3 separate regions of the Homo sapiens genome follow, and regions 2 and 3 are each linked to region 1. The links come from fine-mapping of genetic effects on plasma protein levels. A gene starts in region 1. Each other region holds a variant in brackets. All regions are shown on one strand. Distances are from middle to middle. Region 1 holds the start of KIAA0319. Region 2 overlaps KIAA0319. Region 3 overlaps KIAA0319.

Evidence for each region. A credible set is the group of variants that fine-mapping cannot tell apart. PIP is the chance, under the fine-mapping model, that this variant and not a neighbour inherited with it causes the effect. Protein levels are from antibody-based Olink assays in UK Biobank. Linkage for the fine-mapping came from a reference panel and not from the study's own genotypes, which makes the PIPs less certain.
Region 2: its variant is the best candidate, but not a certain one, in a credible set for the plasma level of the KIAA0319 protein (UK Biobank, PIP 0.85). The variant lies in the coding sequence of KIAA0319. If it changes the protein, the assay may bind it differently, which can mimic a change of level.
Region 3: its variant is the best candidate, but not a certain one, in a credible set for the plasma level of the KIAA0319 protein (UK Biobank, PIP 0.71).

What each region holds. Positions count from the first base shown.
Region 1 is chr6:24,642,731-24,649,523 of GRCh38, reverse strand. KIAA0319 reads left to right here and starts at 3,333. Exons shown (of 21, transcript NM_014809.4): 1 at 3,333-3,788. RefSeq lists a silencer at 3,279-3,488.
Region 2 is chr6:24,563,209-24,570,001 of GRCh38, reverse strand. KIAA0319 reads left to right here. Exons shown (of 21, transcript NM_014809.4): 12 at 1-99; 13 at 1,073-1,221; 14 at 3,254-3,405; 15 at 5,662-5,800; 16 at 6,484-6,643. Among named protein-coding and RNA genes, the nearest start is that of ALDH5A1, 72 kb to the right of the region's middle. The variant C/T (reference allele first, on the strand shown) is at 3,277.
Region 3 is chr6:24,621,447-24,628,239 of GRCh38, reverse strand. The region is part of intron 1 of KIAA0319; the gene reads left to right. Among named protein-coding and RNA genes, the nearest start is that of KIAA0319, 21 kb to the left of the region's middle. The variant T/A (reference allele first, on the strand shown) is at 2,906.

The DNA of each region.
Region 1 (6,793 bases):
TAAAAATACAAAAAATTAGCCGGACGTGATGGCGAGTGCTTGTAGTCCCAGCTACTCAGGAGGCTGAGGCAGGAGAATGGCACGAACCCAGGAAGCAGAACTTGCAGTGAGCCAAGATCGTGCCACTGCACTCCAGCCTGGGCAACAGAGTGAGACTCCATCTCAAAAATAAAATAAAAAATGAGAATAGATGTTAATAGTAGAGTAGCATACATCATAGAGGTAATACAATAGTACATTTCTGTGGGAAAAGGGTTATTCTGGCATAAATTGCTTTCATTTAGAAGAGCTAAGTTAGAACTTCAGATCACATTGCAAAACATAGATGGGTGAAAGTCTAAATTCTTAAAAAAAAAATACAGTGTAGTATACTAGATTAAATAAAGGATTATCGGCTGGGTGCAGTGGCTCATGCCTGTAATCCCAGCACTTTGGGAGGCCGAGGCAGGTGGATCACCTGAGGTCAGAAGTTCAAGACTCGTCTAGCCAACATGGTGAAACCCCATCTCTACTAAAAATACAAAAATTAGCCAGGCGTGGTGACACGTGCCTGTAATCCAAGCTACTCAGGAGGCTGAGGCAGGAGAATCACTTGACCCTGGGAGGCGGAGGTTGCAGTAAGCCGAGATCGTGCCACTGCACTCCAGCCTGGGCGACAGAGCAAGACTGTCTCAAAAAAAACCACTTTTAGTCTGCTTTCATGAGCAATAGTTATCAATGAATTAACCTACTAATTTGCTATATCTTGAGTTTTTTACTTGGAATTTTTCAAAGTTTTTCCAGTGTAGTAGCTTTGCTTGCCTTACCTTCCTGCTTAGTGAAATTCCAACATAGAATCTTCTGGGTTTTTTTTTTTTTTTTTTTCAGTCTCAACCTCCTGGGCACAAGTGATCCTCTAGCCTCAGACTCTTGGGTAGCTGGGATTACAGGTGTGCACCACACACCCAGCTACTTTTTATTTGTTTTTGTTTTTTGTACAGAGAGGATCTTGCTATGTTGCCCAGGCTGGCCTCGAACTCCGGGGCTCACTCAATCCTCCTGCCTCGCCCACAAAGTGCTGGGATTATAGGCATGAGCCACTGTACGTGGCCTAAAGTCTTGTATTTCAATGAGGCAGCACTGTCATTACGCTAAGCACCATTTTTACCACTGATGTGGAATGTACTTTAACCTTCCTAAACCTCAGTTTTACCCACCCTCAAAATAAGTTATCTTTTATTGTACAAATGTCCCAACCAAAAGCATAAGCAAGAGCAGACAAAGTTAATTATACTAAGGATACATCATTTTATCCTTACTACCTCTTGCAGTGTCTGGCATATAGTAGGAGCTCAATGGATGTCCACTGAATGCTGAAAAGAAGTGAAAGGTAGTAGCCTCACATCTGTGTCCTAAAGAAGGAGACTAACATTTTCATACAATACCAAAATAGATATATTCATTAAAAATGAAAATAGATATTCATTACAGTGTCTCTGAGTTAAAAAGATGGTATAGTTAAACATTCTGGGCTAAGCCTGTGTGTGTGTGTATGTGCTAAAAATATGTTTCTTTAAAGGCTAATCAGCCAAGGATCGTTGGGGACAAAATCAGATTCATTGGCTTGATGCATTGAAAGAGTACCTGTGGAATGCCATGTGAGCACAGAAAGGAGGAAGTGTCTTTTGTAAAGATTTGGCTTCCTATTAAAGGATTCCAGGGAGAGTCTTGGAATCAGAGCTGGGATCCAGTTGGTTGCTGTTTCTGAGGCAGATTGAGAGAAAGGGGGATTAATGAGGGATTGGGTGCTGTCAGGAGGTGAAGGGAGTTTAGCAATTGGGTATCCCCAGTTATGGATGGGAATAGTAAAGCAAAGGTAGAAAGTAGTAGTCATTCAAAAATGGAACACAAGGAGTTGTGTTGTTTTGTACCTGCTGCGTGACTTCAGAGGAAACAACATTGCCTGTTAATTTTGCTTCTGACTTTGTCCTCTCAGCCTGATCATTGATCATTGGCAGTACTAACTTTTCCAAGTCCAAGCTGATTTTCACTCTTTGAGTCCTGGACAGGTTTTTACTCTTTAGTTTTTATTTATTTATTTATTTATTTATTTATTTATTTATTTATTTATTTATTTATTTTGAGACGGAGTCTTGCTCTGTCGCCCAGGCTGGAGTGCAGTGGCACGATCTCGGCTCACTGCAACCTCCGCCTCCTGGATTCAAGCGATTCTCCTGCCTCAGCCTCTCAAGTAGCTGGAACTACAGGCGCGGGCCACCACTCCCGGTTAATTTTTTGTATTTTTAGTAGAGACGGGGGTTTCACCGTGTTAGCCAGAATGGTCTCGATCTCCTGACCTCGTGATCCGCCCGCCTCGGCCTGCCAAAGTGCTAGGATTACAGGCGTGAGCCACCGCACCCAGCTGGTTTTTACTCTTTAAATGTGCATTATCTTATTTGATTCCCAGAATCATCCTATATGAATGCTATTATCTTCATTTTATAATTGAGGAAACAGGTTTATCTAGATTAGGTAACTTGTCTGAGGCTCTTCGGTAAATACGAGTAGCCAAGAAGCTTATTCATCAACAGTGTGTGACTCAGCCCTAAGCACTGCACTTATACCTCCTAGTAATGAGATGTGCGAGGAATGCCCTGGCTACCTTTTCTGCTCATGATATTATCCCTAGATGCTTTCGCATCTTTATTAAAACAGTAAAAATGCAAGAGTCTTCCACCCAAGTTTTCTGTGGTTTAGATTATCACGTTCCTCAAGATGCAAATGTCAAACTATACTGGGCATCCAGTTAACCTGCAAGGCCTGGAGGTGATGGGAGCCCCTCCTAGCACAGGTTCCCAGTCTCAGTCAGAAAGCACCTGCTCAAAATAGAAAGATAATTACAGAGTAGGGGCCAAAGAGACTCCCACTGGAAGAATGGAACTTGTGTAGCTGGGGTGACACAAGCTGGGGACAAGCTGGGGGACACATTCGCGAAGGGTGTTTGACCCAGGCAGTGCACCCACGGCTCCCTTGAGCCACCCTGGCCCGGGTGTTTATTTGGAAGGAGTGTTCATCCCCCAGACTGTTTAGGGCCACGGTGACAGGGAAGGGCTTGGTGAAGGAAAGCAGGTAGGGTATGAAGGCCGCTCAGGTTCACGAAAGACTTTTGCTTGGTCCCCTGCGGGGTGGGAGTGTGTCGCCCCGGTGCGGGTACTTAGAGCGCAACCGGGGAGCTGAGCAGGGGAGCTGAGCAGGGGAGCTGGGCAGGGGCGGCTGCCGCGCCCCACATCCCTGAGGGCGTGTGTGCGCGTGCGCGCGCGTCGCCGTGGTAACCGCGGCGGCGGAAAGGCGCTGAATCACTGGCGCGCGCTTTCCCCGAGCCTGCAGAAGCTGCCGCGGGCGGTGGGCGGGGATCCCCCGGGGGTGCAACCTTGCTCCACCTGTGCTGCCCTCGGCGGGCCTGGCTGGCCCCGCGCAGAGCGGCGGCGGCGCTCGCTGTCACTGCCGGAGGTGAGAGCGCAGCAGTAGCTTCAGCCTGTCTTGGGCTTGGTCCAGATTCGCTCCTCTGGGGCTACGTCCCGGGGAAGAGGAAGCGAGGATTTTGCTGGGGTGGGGCTGTACCTCTTAACAGCAGGTGCGCGCGCGAGGGTGTGAACGTGTGTGTGTGTGTGTGTGTGTGTGTGTGTGTGTGTGTGTGTGTGTGTAAGACCTGCGATGACGACGAGGAGGAACAAGTGGGACGGCGAGTGATGCTCAGGGCCAGCAGCAACGCATGGGGCGAGCTTCAGTGTCGCCAGCAGTGACCACAGGTACGGTATCTACTTCCCAGAGCGCCTGGCCGAGAAATAGGAAAGAGGGCAGCCAGTAGGCAGGCCAATACCCAACAAAAGTAGAATCGAGACGCCCTGAGTTCAGAAGGTGAGTTTCTTAAGATTCTTCTGGGCATTCAGGAAAGGGCATTTTTTGATTGCTGCACTGATTGTTGACTAGTAGGGTGGAGTCGGGGAAATTTGAGTGTCTTTTCCCAACCTCACGAATTGCATTTTTTTAGAAGTAAGGAATCGTTTTCTTTAAACTTCATTCAGAACTATTTATGTGATCTTTCCTATTATTTGCTAAATGCATTTTGTCTCTGTTCCTTACCATAACCTGAAGCTTAAAATCTTTCTCTTCTTCCCTTTGAATTCCCTCCAAGGAATGTCACAAATTAATCGGGAGGATAAACCTGAAATTTTGAGAGTTATCATCTTAAGGTCATTTGTTAATTAAATACAAGGAGGAAAAATATGATATACATACTCATGTGCACTTTTATTGCTGGTTTGTTCATCAAAACATTTTTGTTTGTCGGTGAAATGTTAGTATTTTTTCCACTGCTTGAATTGAAAAGTTGAATGATGTTTTTGATAGTAACAGAAAAAATAAATTGTAGACAATGTTCCCCCCCACACACAAGAATTTTGGAAGTAAATGTTGGTATTTATTTCTTTATTCCTGAAATACATGCTCACTTTCCAAATGCTTCAATTTATTATAAGAAGACCACAATTGTAGAGACTACTAAAGTTATGCCAAATCTAAACTTTTATTTTGTGCTTTTTTTAGTATTATTTTTAATTCAGATGAGGAAAACTGGAGGTGTCAGTTCAGTTATAGACGTAGGAGTCACAGAGAAAGGTGAATTCCTCTGTAATTTGAAAAAGGGAAATGTAAACATATTACCTAAGTACTCTGATTTATTTGTATTAACCATTTGTAATGCATTTGCATTTGTAATGCAAAATGCCGAGGCAAGAACTTAATTTTTGTTTCGAAATAATGAAAATAATTCAGCCAAAATCTTTATGAATTAAAAATAGCCAAAAGAGAGCTTTGGTAATGTATGAATGTAAAAGAATAGAGTTGCTGTTAAATTTTCTTGACTTTTTTTTTTTCCCTAGCCAATAGATAGGAAGCATTCTCTTTAAATAAATACAGTAAGTCCTCACTTAACATTCTTGATACGTTCTTGGAAACTGTGAACCTTTAAGCACAACGAGGTATAAGGAAACCAATTTTACCACAGGCTAATTGATATAAACAAGAGTTAAGTTCCTACAGCATATTTCTGGTCATAAAAAAATCACCAAACTTCTAAATAAAGACCACAACACTTCTAATATTAAACATAGAAATAAATGGGATCTATACATACAGTTAAGAAGGATTAGTAAAAACAAGATCATTATTTACCCAATTATTACAGTTCAAGGTCATGGGTAGCCAGAGTCTCCCTGGTTCAGAGTGGGAACCCCCCCCTCTCCCCTGTCCAGGAAGCTATCCCATCACAGGGTGCACTTTCACAGACACACCCACTCACTCAGACGGGGACCATGTAGACATATGCACAGCTTTGGGATGTGAAGGAAACCGAAGCCCAGAGAAAACCCACGCAGACATGAGGAGAATGAGCAGACTCCACATAGACAGTGGCCCTGGCCAGGAATTTTTTTGTCACCAACGTTGAATGAAACTATGTTATTGAGGCACTGCTGTATGTAGAGCCAGGTATGCCCGTTTCTGGAACGGAGTGCTGCAGATTGCCAGGTCAGAGGGTGTGGGTTTGGGCGTGGCTCTGCCACTTAGTGGCTGTCTCACATTTGGCAAATTCTCTAAACCCTCTAAGGCTCAGTTTCCTCACCTGTAAAATAGAGATAACAATGGGACCTACTTAACGAAATTCCTGTAAGAATTAAATACAATAATATGTTTAAGAGATCTTTGCTCATTGCCTGGCATGTTTTAATAGTAACGCTTCAATAAGTGTTGTTATTTTTGAGATGTGTTCTTTTTCAGGAAATATTTTTCATACCTTAAAAATAATTTGGTACTAAAAAATAGATTTATTTTGACATGTCCAAAGCTTGTTCTGATTTATGATATCAAATCATCATAAAATGCATAAATTTTTCCTTGCAGCACCTTTATAACAGCAACAATAATAAATATAATAATCAAAATCATAAAATCATGTCAATTTAATATTCTGGTAGCTTAATACCCCCAAGGAAGGAGCTTTGCTTTAGTAGGCCTAGAATAATTGGTAGGTTATTTTTCTATTTGTTTTTAAAATTTTTTTTATAGATTTAGAGTGTACAAGTGCAGTTTTGTTATGTGGATATATTGTGTAGTGTCAAAGTCTGGGCTTTTAGTGTACCCATTACCCGAATAGTGTAGGTTATTTTTCTATTTGTCTTTAAAAATCTGTACCTTTAGACACTATTCATGTGAATTCAATAATAAGAAAATATTTTCTCATTTATTTGTATTAAACAATAAAAATGGTTGAGCCAGAGTAACATCTGGCATCATCATTTTGCAGGGTCTTTTAACAGTAGGTGTTTAAGTTTTAAAGTAGAGCTGCTTAAATGACACCAGTAGGTAAAGATAATAGTGTTCAAGTTTTAGTTATTTTTCCTTCTAAATAATATTGTAGAATTATCCTGCCTGCCAACTTGCTGGTCATTCTTTTCCTTAAGTTCAAAAAAGCAAAGGAGGCTGGGAACGCGGTGGCTCATGCCTATAATCCCAGCACTTTGGGAGTCCGAAATGGACGGATCACCTGAGGTCAGGAGTTCGAGACCAGCCTGGCCAACATGGTGAAACCCCATCTCTACTAAAAATACAAAAATTAGCCAGGCATAGTGGTGGGCGCCTGTAATCCCAGCTGAGGCAGGCGAATCACTTGAACTCCGGGAGGCGGAGGTTGCGGTGAGCCCAGATTGCCTCACTGCACTCCAGCCTGGGCCACAGAGCAAGACTCTAATTCAAAAAA
Region 2 (6,793 bases), 80 kb after region 1:
TGATAAAGAGCTGATCTTCCCAGTGGAAAGTGCTACCCTGGATGGGAGCAGCAGCAGCGATGACCACGGCATTGTCTTCTACCACTGGGAGCACGTCAGGTAGTCTGTCTCGCCACTGAGCTAGGTTCATGCCCATGCTGAATGCTAATATTATCCCTTCTCTGGAGGATCTGTAGTAAACAATCAGCTTGCGCATTTTGAGGAGTCGGGATTTAAGCACGTTTCTAGAAGTGGCTGGGCGTTATTGATTGAAGAGTACATTAAGTGTGGATGGACATCATTGACAGCGGAGGGAGGTAGAGCTTGGGGCAGTTGAACAGGGCTGTCTTGGTGTGAGGCGAGCTCATGACAGAAGAGGTTCAGGGAAACCTGTGTGTGATCCTGTCTACACTCAACCCATCCTGCAGTGACTGTAGACACCAGAAGTGCAGTGTAAGGGGCGACCCATATCATCTAACATTTTCTGAGCTTTACATGCTCTGTCTCATAGAACCCTGTATCAGTTTGTAAGAGATAAATAAGAATATTATTCCTATTTAAAGTTGAAGAAACTGAGGCTTGTAGACACTAATGAGACCACACAGACTAAGGTTGCCCAGATAGTAAGAGAAAGAGCTTGGACCCAAACTGAGGTATTTTTGACAAGCCCCGATCTTAGTGACTATACTGTGATCTCTCTCCTAGGAGAGGGCTTATCTGGCTTATTCCCTCCTCTTCCATGCTCTCCCTAAAGATAGATGAGGATTTCACCTAATTTTATTCAAAGAAGAAATGGGAGTCGTTTCTAAGGCTCATTTTCCAAGGATAGATCATTTCACTGGCAGCTTGACTTAAAAAAATCGAGAACAAATATTCTCTTCCCAGTAATCCAGCAGACTCTGCCTGAGATAGGTTTTAGCTTGTGACTCTTACACTGAACTAGAGAGTACAGATGAATGGAGTTTTCTTAGAATTCTCTAAATGGTATATATTATAGCTGGAACAAAACATTTATAAGAGCACAAATCGCATGCCTGTCATATTCAAAACCCCATGCCCCCTCCCTTATGTTAACCACTTCTATGTTTTATAGAGGCCCCAGTGCAGTGGAGATGGAAAATATTGACAAAGCAATAGCCACTGTGACTGGTCTCCAGGTGGGGACCTACCACTTCCGTTTGACAGTGAAAGACCAGCAGGGACTGAGCAGCACGTCCACCCTCACTGTGGCTGTGAAGAAGGGTGAGTGGGTCTGAGGTGGACAGGGCTGGGCCTGCTCTGCTTTCGAGTCTGCAGGACCCTCAGCCAGGCCATGACTATTCAGAGATGTTGGTGTTTGCTTATTTGTTCGCAGCAGATGCCGAACCCTGCCTGGCTGAAAAAAAGCCAACTTTCTTCTATTCATGTTAGCTGTTTCTCAGTCGCCCTCTGCAAGCAGACATTTCCTTTTGTTTGTGGAGCATATCTTCTAATGACTTCACTCTTCTGTGACTACTAGTAATGAAAGACCCACGTCCAAATGACACCATTATGCTTTTTTTCCTTTATTCCTTGGAAATTCAAGAAAAGAGATGTTTTCAAATTCCATATCGTTTCTTAGTGTGAAATCTGTGGTCTAGACTAGTGAATACTGCTTTAGGTACTTGTCTCCTTGTCTGTCTTCCCATTTGACTGTGAACTGCCTGAGTGTCTTTGCTTCAGACATCTCTGTATCCTCAGTATAGCCTCAGTATAGCAGAGTGCTAGACTCATGGCAAATCAGAGGTGTTGAATGAATTAGTGAATGGATGATTACAACGTGTTGAAGTGCAGAGGAGTATAAGAGCCTGGCTGGATGGAAAGGTTCAAGCATTGTAGAATGGCAAGAGTGTGGGACGCTGGGAGAGTGGCTGCAGCCTGAGGCACAGGCTCTGCCATGGAGGGTTGTATGTGCCACGGGCCATGCTTAGGGGTTTGGACTTTATCCTCTGGGCAGCTGGGAGAGGCTGAAGCAACTTTAACAGCAAAGTGATATAGATTTGGATTTTTCAAAAGATTTTATTGTAGAGATTTTCAACCATGCATAAAAGTAGAGAGAATAGTCTGAACAGGCATCTTGACTTGTTTCTAAGGGGAAATTGGGAGGGATCAGGCTGGGTCCCAGAGCCCCTTCTGGACAAGCAGGATTTGCCTCACAGCAGCCTCATCTCCAAATTGAGGCTGTGTCTTATTATGATCTCCCCACTGTACCCCAGTGTTGTTAGTGCTCCCTGGCCCCTCTTTTCTGAAGTTATTACATCAGAAATGGCTTTTACATTGCCTCATTTTTTTATTTTTAAAATAGACCCAGGGTCTCACTCTGTTGCTCGGACTGGAGTACTGTGCTGTGATCATAGCTCATTGCAGCCTCAAACTCCTGATCTCAAGTGATTCTCTCACCTCAGCTTCCTGAGTAGCTGGGTCTACAGGTGTGTGTTACCATGCCCAGCTGATTTTTAATTTTGTGTGTGTGTGGAGACGGGTCTTGCTACCCAGGCTGGTCTTGAACTTCTGGCTTCAAGCACTCATCCTGCCTTAGCCTCCCCAAGTGTTAGGATTACAGTTATGAGCCACCATGCCTGGCCATTGCCTCATTTATATTTAACACCTAGTCAGAGAAGTGAGGGCCTAATTATCATTGTTATTATTTCAATTTTTAATTTTTCATAGAGATGGAGACTTGTTGTGTTGCCCCGGCTGGTCTCAAACTCCTGGTCTCAAGTGATTCTCCTGCTTTGGCCTCCTAAAGTGCTGGGATTACAGGTGTGAGCCACTGCACCCAGCCTACTTTTTACTCAAATTTTTTTTTTCTTTTTTTTTGTCTTAGAGAGTCAAGATTTGGCAGTACTTGAAGTGGAAATATTTCTGGCCAGATAGTGTGGACCAGTACAAAATGACCCAAAGTATATTGTAAACCAAAATATTGCCACTTTCAATACCCTAAATGTTGGTAAAATCATTGTTTCTATTTTTCAAGGACAGAAAAGGTATAACAATATTAGAAAAATTCCCAAGGTACAGCTTGCCACCTGCTTTACCGTTTTCATCCCAAATTATAGCTAACTAAGTACAAATGGAGCTTTAAGGAAGTCTGTATCTTATATGCATCTGGGGAAAAAAATGCCTTTTTGGATATTTTAATTCTACATACTGTATCTGCAAGGTGGAAGAGTTGTGGATGTTTTATGACACACTTATTCTATCACTGGTGTTTTAAATCAATCTCTTTGCTTTCATTTTGCTATATTTGACTTAGAAAATAATAGTCCTCCCAGAGCC[C/T]GGGCTGGTGGCAGACATGTTCTTGTGCTTCCCAATAATTCCATTACTTTGGATGGTTCAAGGTCTACTGATGACCAAAGAATTGTGTCCTATCTGTGGATCCGGGATGGCCAGAGTCCAGCAGCTGGAGTGAGTACTGAGAGAGAATTGCTCCTAGACCACTTATCATTACATCTGCATTAGTCAGCTTGGGCTGCAAACAATATATCACGGTATATTCTAAGGAAAGGATATAAGTATAAGGAGGCTTAAACAACAGAACTTAATTTTGTCTCCATTATGGAGGCTGGGAAGACAGGCTCAAGTTGCTGGCTAATTCAGTTTCCAGTGAGGTCTTTCTTCCTGGCTTGCAGACAGCTGCCTTCTTACCATGTCCTCCCATAGCAGGGGAAGAGAGAGCACTCTGGTGTCTCTTCTTATAAGGACAGTAAATCCTATTGGATCAGGGGCCTACCCTTATGACCTCAATTAACCTTAACTACTTCCTTATAGGTCCTATTTCTAGATACAGTCATATGGGGTTAGGGCTTCAACACAGGAGTCTGGGAAAGACACAGTTCGGTCCACGGCAGTGTCTCTATAATGACCTCATCTCTCTTTCCCTGTTCCCTGTAAGGTGCTTATGCTTCTACATTAGAATGTTCTGAAGGCTGGAGGCAGTAGGCTGCTTTGAGATTTAGCCAAAAGCTGAAATCCTTTCTGACTTTTTCCTGAACAGACTTTGGATGGGGCAGGAAACCATAGCTTGGAAGCACTTTGAGGTCAAGTCTTCCAGCAGGATGCTTTTCCATCCTTCGTATTTTGGTCCAAGTGGATTCTTTTCTGTTCCTCATATTGTACCAGATGAGTCAATAGATCACGGATTGCTATTTACGTTTTATAGATGCAGAAGGCGAAATGCAGAGATGAGAAGTGACTTGGCCGAGGTTAACTAATCCATTTCTTTTGTTCTTTTTTTTTTTTTTTTTTTTTTGAGATGGAGTCTCACTCTATCGCCCAGGCTGTAGTGCAGTGGCGCAATCTCGGCTCACTGCAACCTCCGCTGCCCGAGTTCGAGCTATTCTCCTGCCTCAGCCTCCCGCGTAGCTGGGACTACAGGCACGTGCCACCACGTCCAGCTAATTTTTGTAGTTTTAGTAGAGATGGGGTTTCACCATGTTGGCCAGGATGGTCTTGATCTCTTGACCTTGTGATCCACCCGCTTCGGCCTCCCAAAGTACTGGGATTACAGGCGTGAGCCACCGCGCCCAGCCTTAACTAATCCATTTTTAATCAAACTAGACACACCTAGGTTTTTAGCTCCTGGCAGGCATTTTACCCCCATTAGATCACTCTGCCTCTTAGGACATAAATGTATGTACGTCTTCATTCCTGCCATTTCTAAGGACTGGAGAGATACAGATTTAGTCTTGGAGATGTACTAAGGAGTGGTCACAGGGAAGGAACTGAAAATGCTTTATACTTTTTTTTTTTGAGTCCGAGTCTCGCTCTGTCACCTAGACTGGAGTTTAGTGGTGCGATCTAGGCTCACTGCAAGCTCCACTTCCCAGGTTCAAGCCATTCTCCTGCCTCAGCCTCCCGAGTAGCTGGGACTGCAGGTGCCCACCACCACGCCTGTCTAATTTTTTTGTATTGTATTTTTAGTAGAGACGGGGTTTCACCTTGTTAGCCAGGATGTTCTCGATCTCCTGACCTCGTGATCCGCCTGCCTTTGCCTCCCAAAGTGGTGGGATTACAGGCGTGAGCCACCATGCCCTGCCAAATGCTTTATACTTTCTAAGCACTTCTAGAATTAACACTATTCAACTAGATGGGGGATTAGCCTCTAAATGTAATAACAATGAGTCTCTGTTCACAGCACATATTCGTTATCACCCCTTCTATTAGCAGGAGTCTGGGAGGTTCTTCTCTCATTCTTTGGAGCTTAGAAGCCCACAGAACAGAGGACGCTACACAGGGTCTTGGGTTATTTCAGGTGAACATGATACATTATGAGGGAATTCAAGATGAGAGTTTTGTAAAGCTATGTTTGAAAATAAGACCCAGAAAACCTGTGCTTTGTTCTCAGCGTCCTTGCCCTAATTCAAATGGTCTTTCCCTTTGTTGGATACAATTAATTATTTGGTAATTCCTGGAAAGTGCTTGGTAAACTTAGTTCAGTTCAGGAAATACTGTCTGAGGATGTGCCCCCTGGTGCTTTTTGGGGAAGAGATGCTGAGGATTTCTCCAGTCTTTAGCTATCCCGCCAGCCTCATTCCCTGCAGCCTCCCTCTTAAAGTCACGCCTGTGTTAAAAAGATGGGACACTGAGGTTTAGGATCAACAGAAGCCCAGAAATTGGGACCCGAGGATTGACAGCTGCCCTGTGATCCGTGTTCTTTCGCAGGATGTCATCGATGGCTCTGACCACAGTGTGGCTCTGCAGCTTACGAATCTGGTGGAGGGGGTGTACACTTTCCACTTGCGAGTCACCGACAGTCAGGGGGCCTCGGACACAGACACTGCCACTGTGGAAGTGCAGCCAGGTGAGTTCCTGGGCTCTGGAGCTGGCCATGCAGGCTCTGGCTGGTCAGCCTTTGGGGTCTTTACGCTGACAGATGTGACCAGTGTGGGAGGCCTCCTGTGGCTGGCTCCAGCTCTTGGCTGGACCCACTTTGAGGATGTCTCTTACACCTTGTTGTGTATCCCCAGATAGATCCAGCCTCATCACTCTTTAAAAGAGAATGTTATCTGGCAACTAGATTTTCTTTTCATGTTTGTTTTCCTGCCAGAAGACAAAGACTTAATGTGAAGTGGACACAAGGGCCTCATACCAGGGCACAGAGGGAGGCAGCTCCAGTGAAGTGGCTGTAACGACCTCAGCATAAACTGGACTGGGAAGTGCCCATTGGCACTTGGAAGCAAAATTCTCTTTCTGGTCCTGGGAAAATGTGGAAGAGGCTGAAATTTTCAGCTAGCCCAGAGGCTAATTAGGTACACCCGATTATCTTCTGGAAAAAAAATTATAAACAACAAACTGTGATAAAACAAGGGAAAGTACTCCCAGATAGTGGCCTTTGCGGTGTTTAGAAGAATTTACCTGAGTGCTACAACTCAAATGTAGAAATGGCATAGGAGTAACTTTGAGCTCCTATAGAAACCTCGCTCCTTATGCTCTAAAGCCTGTGCAAATGTCCAAGTGCAAATCCTGTATCTTCTCTTTCCCCAGACCCTAGGAAGAGTGGCCTGGTGGAGCTGACCCTGCAGGTTGGTGTTGGGCAGCTGACAGAGCAGCGGAAGGACACCCTTGTGAGGCAGCTGGCTGTGCTGCTGAACGTGCTGGACTCGGACATTAAGGTCCAGAAGATTCGGGCCCACTCGGATCTCAGGTAGGAGCTGCACACTCAAGGCGGGGCCTTGGCCGTACAAAATTCCAGCTCTTACCTCATCCCAGTCCAGTAGAAAACTGTTCATTCCTCTGCTACTTTTGTATTTTTGACACACTTTTATCCCATTCATATACTTTTTTTCTCAAAGGG
Region 3 (6,793 bases), 21 kb after region 1:
CTAACCAGTACTTACTCTAAAACAAGGTCTATAAAAGCAACAGTCCACAAATTTACTTATTTAGGAAGTTTAGATTTTTAAAAATATGGTGATTTAGGAAGCTAAATGCCATTATAGGATGTTTTTATTGCCCATGTTCTGTAATTATTAGGACATGCTTTCCAGCACTACGTGTGCTTGAAATAATATAAAACCTGGAAGCAATGATGAATAATGTCTAACTTTTCATTAGCACAATTACTCAGTTCATTTTGCCCTAGAATAAGCAGTATTTGGAAGGAGGCTCCTACATTCAGGACATGTCTTCAGCATTCTTCTGGTGAACATTTATGCTGTTATTTGAGTAGTTTAATAATTTTTGAATAGTGACTATAAATGATGCACACAAATATTCCTCTTCTAGATTGTCTTCTGTGGATTAATTAACAGTTCATTAGATAATTATCTGTACTTTTAAGACCATAATGTTAGTCCCTGAACTGAAACCAGTAAGAAGATTGCTGGAAGTCCTGGCCTCTTTTCCCATTTACGGAGTAGGAAAGGTTACTTTGGTGCTTGAGGTAAATTCCAGTTTTCAGGCTACACATCGTGTTCATTTCTTTATTCTGCTAGGGCCACAGCTCATGACCTAGGTAGGCCCTTGCTGTGAATTCCTCACTGTATCATTTGTTCCCTAATTCTGACCTCTGTTTATCAGACCATAATCATGTCTTTCAGAAGAAAACAAGGAAGGAAGGGAGAGAGGAAAGGAGGGAAGGAGGGAGGAAAAAAAGGAAAGAAGGAAGGGAGGGAGGGAAAATGCTCACTAAGACCTAATCACCTTCCCTCCCAATTCATTCTTTCCATGGCTATGACTGAGCACTAAGTCCTCAGCAGAAATTTTGACCAGGAGGTTATCAGGTAGCACATTACCACCTGTTGACAGTGATCTCTAATTGTAACATCATCCCCAGCGCATTTCTGCACTGTACACATAAGGATGTCTTGGGAGAGCCTGCCAGCCCATAATTCTTACAGCATTCTGTTGATCTAACAACATGGGAACAACAGCCATCTAAAAAGTATGTGAAGTCCCCTTTTGTTACTAAGATATATTACATGTTATCATTATGGAAAATTTGGAAAATATAGAAAAGTAGAAAGAAAAACAATTGAGTTCTGCTGGCCTGCCCTGCTTTTTTTAAGACCGCACTTATAAATTGGTCACTAATGTCTTTGTGAAGTGCTCATGAATTATCTGTTCAATAACTCACTCTAGAATGTTGCTGGAGTTTGGCACCTAGGTCTTAACTTGCCATTTCTGTAAATAACCTTATTACCTTCCTGCAAATTGGAACTTTTGTTCCAGAAGCCGCCTAGCTTCTGGAAATTCTCTTTTTCATCATTATTCTGCACAGTTTACCAAAACTAATTGCACAATAAAACCTCAAAATTCCTTGGGTATCTTGGGACAATTTATGTGGCCCTTCCACTGGAATGGAAACTCCCAAAGGGAACCTTTTTATTCACTGCTATATCCTCACAAACTAGAATAGTGCCCTGCAAACATAGGTGTTCAATACATTTTCTTTTTAAAATGTTAGCTTCATTGAGATATATTTCCCATATCAGAACATTTACCCATGTAAAGTATAAAATTCAGTAGCTTTTAGTATATTCACAGTTATCCAACCATCAATTTCAAAACAGTTTCACCCCCTTTTTTTTTGAGAGCGAGTCTTGCTCTGTTGCCCAGGCTGGAGTGCAGTGGCACGATCTCTGCTCACTGCAACCTTCACCTGCCAGGTTCAAGCGATTCTCGTGCCTCAGCCTCCTGAGTAGCTGGGATTACAGGTGTGTGCCACCACACTCAGCTAATTTTTGTATTTTTAGTAGAGACGGGATTTTGCTATGTTGACCAGGCTGGTCTCAAAATCCTGCCCTCAAGTGATTCTCTCATCTCGACCTCCCAAAGTTGTGGGATGACAGGCACAAGCCACCAAGCCCGGCCCCATTTTCACCACTTCTAAAAAATCCTCAGATGCTTAAACAGTCTGTCACATGCCATTCCTTCCCACCACTGGCAGCCACTGATTTGCATTCTATCTCTATGGATTTGCGTATTCTGGACATTTCATGTAAATAGAATGGTACAAAATGTGGTCCTTGTGTCTGATTTCTTTCACTTAGCATAATGGTGTCAAGGTTTATCCATGATGTAGTAGATATGCCGTTCCTTTTTTATTGCCAAATAATATTCCACCGGATAGATATATAATACCATGATATGTTTATCCATTTTAAGCCTATGGGCATTTGAGTTATTTCCATTCATTTAGGTTGTCTTTACTTCTTTTGATGATGTTTTACAGTCTCCACTGTACAAGACTTATACTTCTTTTGTTAAATTTATTCCTAAGTACTTACTCTTTGTGATGCTGTTAGTATGTTAGTATACAGAATTCTTTTCTTAATTTTGTTTTCAGCTCATTCATTCCTAATGTGTAGAAATACAATTGACTTTAGTATGTTGTTTTCATATCATCCTTGCTGAACTCTAGTCATATTTTTGTGGACTCCTTAGGATTTTCTGTATATAAGATCATGTTATCTGTGAATAGACATAGTTTTACACATTCCTTTCCAATCTGGATGCTTTTATTTGCTTTCTCTCCTAATTGGCCTGGCTAGAACCTCCAGTACAATGTTGGATAGAAGTGGTGAGAGCAAAATCCTTGTCTTCTTCCTGATCTTAGGGGCAAAGCTTTTCAGGCTTTCACAATTATATATGATGTTAGCTATGGATTTCCATAGACTCTGTTTATCAAGTTGTATCAATAAATATTTGAGAATGAATACACATATATATATTTAAATATATTCTTTATAATGTTTGCTTTTTGGGTCTTGTTAATAAATCCATCCC[T/A]AATCAGTGGTTAGAAAGATATTTCTGCTACATTTACTTTTAATAGTTTTAAAGCTTTGCATTTCACATTTAGGCCTTTAATTCATGTAAATTTATACTGTATATGGTATGAAGTTGGGATTCTAATTTTGTCATTTATCTGAAAAGCAATTTTCCTAACACCAGTTTTATTCTTGTTCTATTTGGCAGACAATTTTATAGAAATAAAAAAAACAGAAGTTATGGGGTACTGTATTATACAATTCTTTTATTTATTGTTTCTGTTTTTTAGAGAGGGGAGCTCATTCTGTTGCCCATGCTGGCATGCAGTGGTGCAGCTATAGCTCACTGTAGCCTTGAACTCCTGGACTCAAGCCATCTTCCTCCCTCAGCCTCCTGAGTAGGTGGGATTACAGGCTGAAGAGCCTAACCATATTGTACAACTCTTAAGGCTGGGCAGAAATCTTGAATAGGACAGGATCATGTGGCACCGCACTCCAGGTTCCATTGTTCAGCCCACATTACATTGCATGTAGAAGGAAATATGGGAGTCAGGGCTTCACGTCCGACTTCCAAATCTCACTTGAATGCATTTCATTGGCAGAACCTGAATAACATTCAGATCCTTAGGTACAGGGATGTTGAGAAATGTAATTTTCACCTTTCCATCCCCTTCCCTAGAGGAGATGAGGGTAGGGGCTATATGAAGCTGTGCAGATGAATTCTGAGTGTCAAGGTCCCAGCACAAGGTTCTTCCAATTATCTTCTAATAGATCATTTTCTATTTTTTCCTCAATGTTTTCCTTCTTCTGCATTACACTTAGCTGCTATTGTTTCTTATATATCATGTATTTCATCATTCTTTCTTGGATTCATTTTTCATTTTGCTGGAATACCTCCTCCAAAAAAATTTTTATTTGTATGCAGGTGATAATATTCTGAGTTTTCAAATGTTCAAAAATATGTTGATTTTGTTTACATGTTTGATAGATAGTTTGTGCAATAAAGAAATTCAAGGCCTGGCATGGCGGCTCACAACTGTAATCCCAAACTTTGGGAGGCCGAGGTAGATGGTCATTTGGGCCCAGAAGTTCTAGACCAGCCTGGGCAATATGATGAAACCCTGTCTCTACAAAAAAAAAAAAAAAAAAACAACCCCAAAAATTAGCTAGGTGTGGTGGTGTACACCTGTTGTCCCAGTTACTCAGGAGGCTGAGGTGGAAGGATTGCTTGAACCCAGGAGGCAGAGGCTGCAGTGAGCCAAGATTGCACCACTGCACTCCAGCCTGCGTGATAGAGTGAGACCTTGTCTAAAAAAAAAAAAAAAAAAAAAAAAAAGAAAACAAAGAAATTCAAAATTATTTTTCTTTAGAATTTAAAGATGTATTATATTGTATATATTAAAGTTTTTAACTTTTATGGATTTTTGTGGATACATAATCATTGTGCACATTTATGGGGTACATGTGATGTTTTGACACAAGCATACAATGTATAATGATCAATTTGGATAACTGGGATATCATCACCTCTCACCTCAAATATTTATCATTTCTTTATGTTGGGAACATTCCAGATCTTCTCTTTTAGCTATTTTGAAATGCACAATAAATTATTGTTAACTATAGTCACCCTACTTTGCTATCAAACGCTGGAACTTATTCCTTCTAACTGTATTTTGTACCCATTCACCAATCCTCTTCATCCCCCTTAGAATTTTGAATTCCTCCATTGCCCTCGTTGTTCCACTAATGCCTATGAGAAATATGATGCTGCTCTGTGATTCTGGTTCTTTTGAAGGTAACCTATTTTTTTTCTCTTTGGAAGATTTTAGGGTATGTCCTTAAGAACTTTTGGAGTTCTTAACTTTTATCAAGATGTCTAGGCCATATATCCTGCTTGCCTGCTTGTACTATGTAGGCCCTTTTAATTTGAAGACTGGTTTTCTTCATTTAAAGGAAATTTTGTTCTATTATTTCTTCACTTCTTCCCCTCTATTGTCTCTGTTCTTTCTTCCTATAATGCCTCTTAGCTAGATGATGAAAATTCTGGACTCTCCCCTATGCCTTCTAACATTGCCCCATATTTTCTTTTCCTTTGTCTTTGTGTGTGTGCGTGTATGTGTGTGTTTGTGTTCATGTGCACACTAGGGGAATGTCCTCACATCTACCTTTCAAATCTGTAACTTGCCTTCAGCCACGTAGAACAGGTGTTCTGGAGCCAGATAGCTTGACTTTGAATTCTGACTTAGCTAATTTTTAGCTGTCTGAGCAAGTGACTTAATCTCTCTCTCTCTCTCTTTTTTTTTTCTTTTAATGAGATGGAGCCTCACTCTGTTGCCCAGGCTAGAGTGCAGTGGCACAATCTCTGTTCACTGCAACCTCCATCTCCTGGGTTCAAGTAATTTTTCTGCCTCAGCCTCCCGAGTAGCTGGGATTACAGGCACCTGCCACCATGTCCGACTAATTTTTGTATTTTTAGTAGAGACAGGGTTTCGTTGGCCAGGCTGGTCTCGAACTCCTGATCTCAAGTGATCCTCTCGCCTCGGCCTCCCAGAGTGCTAAAATTACAGGTGTGAACCACCGTGCCCAGCCATTAATCTCTTTAACTCTGTTTCCTCACCTGTGAGATGGGGAGAATAATAGTACCTGCCTCACTGGGTTAGTTTGATTATTAGGTATGTTAGGATGTTTAAAATGCGAAGAACAGATCCTGGGCCTAACACATAGGAGGTACTTAATATATATTAGCTGCTAGCATTATCAACAGTTATTCCACTTGTTCACTGAGGTTTTAATTTTAACAATCCTATTTTGAATTTCCAATAATTTTTCTTGTTCTCTGATTTTTGCCCCTCATTTGTAGCAGCCTATTTTTGTTTTATGGAGGCAATATCCTTTCAAATTTTTCCAAAGATACTAATTACTATTTTAATTATTGATATTAATTGTGGTTTAAAGTTTTTCTTTGTTCCTTTAATCTTCTATTTGTTTATCATAGCCTTTCTTTTTCATGTTCTTTTTTTTTTTTTTTTTTAATTTCTCAAATGTCTAGCAGTCCTTGGTTGCCTGTTCCTTTTGATCTGTGAGGGGCTCCACTGATCAGGATACTTGGCTGCTTTCTGACGTAGCTGTCCACTCATTGATTCATGTGAGGCTTGCTGTGGCATCTGAGTGCATGAGTGGGAGGTGTCTGGTCAGGTTTCCCTCTGGGGTGTACGGGTGAGCACTCCCCAGGCAGCCACTGGAAGGAGAGCTCTGCCTAGAGGTGTGGTGCTTCAGAATAAAGTAGATTTCATTCCAGGGCAGAGCTGTGCATTCGCAGACTCTGTTGACTCTCCTTTTCTCCCAGGCCCAGTGCTGCCACCAGGGCCCCATGGAGGTAGATCTCCGTCTCTTGAGAGAGCAGTTCTCTGGCTTTAGCTTGAGATCTGTTTTTCGTTTGGTGATCACCCCAACGATTGTGCCTTGGCCGGTTCTGTCTCTTTGCATCCATTGGCTCAGGGCTTGGAGCTTCTCCAGTGCTGTCACCAAAAGTGCTGTTCTTCCTTTTTCTAGGAAATGAGTTTCCTCTCTTCCTTTCCAGTCAGAGCCATGCCATCTGCTTTCTATCTTCCAGGAATTCTTTGAAATGATTGGTCTATTAATGATGTCCATTCTTATTTTCCTGTGTTGTTATGGTTTATTTTCTTTTGTCTGTTCTTATGTCCTGTTTGCCTCCCCTCACAGTTTTTCCCCCCAGTAAGACCATGCACAGGAAAGAGGAGAGCTGGATATACATCTATCTGCCATATTGAACTAGAAAGTTTTCTTTTTTATTTTGAGCTTTCCAAGATTTTCTTAATGATGCCAATTTCCTCCCAGATAGATTAATATGAATATATTTTTTGTGTGGGCTGTGTCTCTGGAT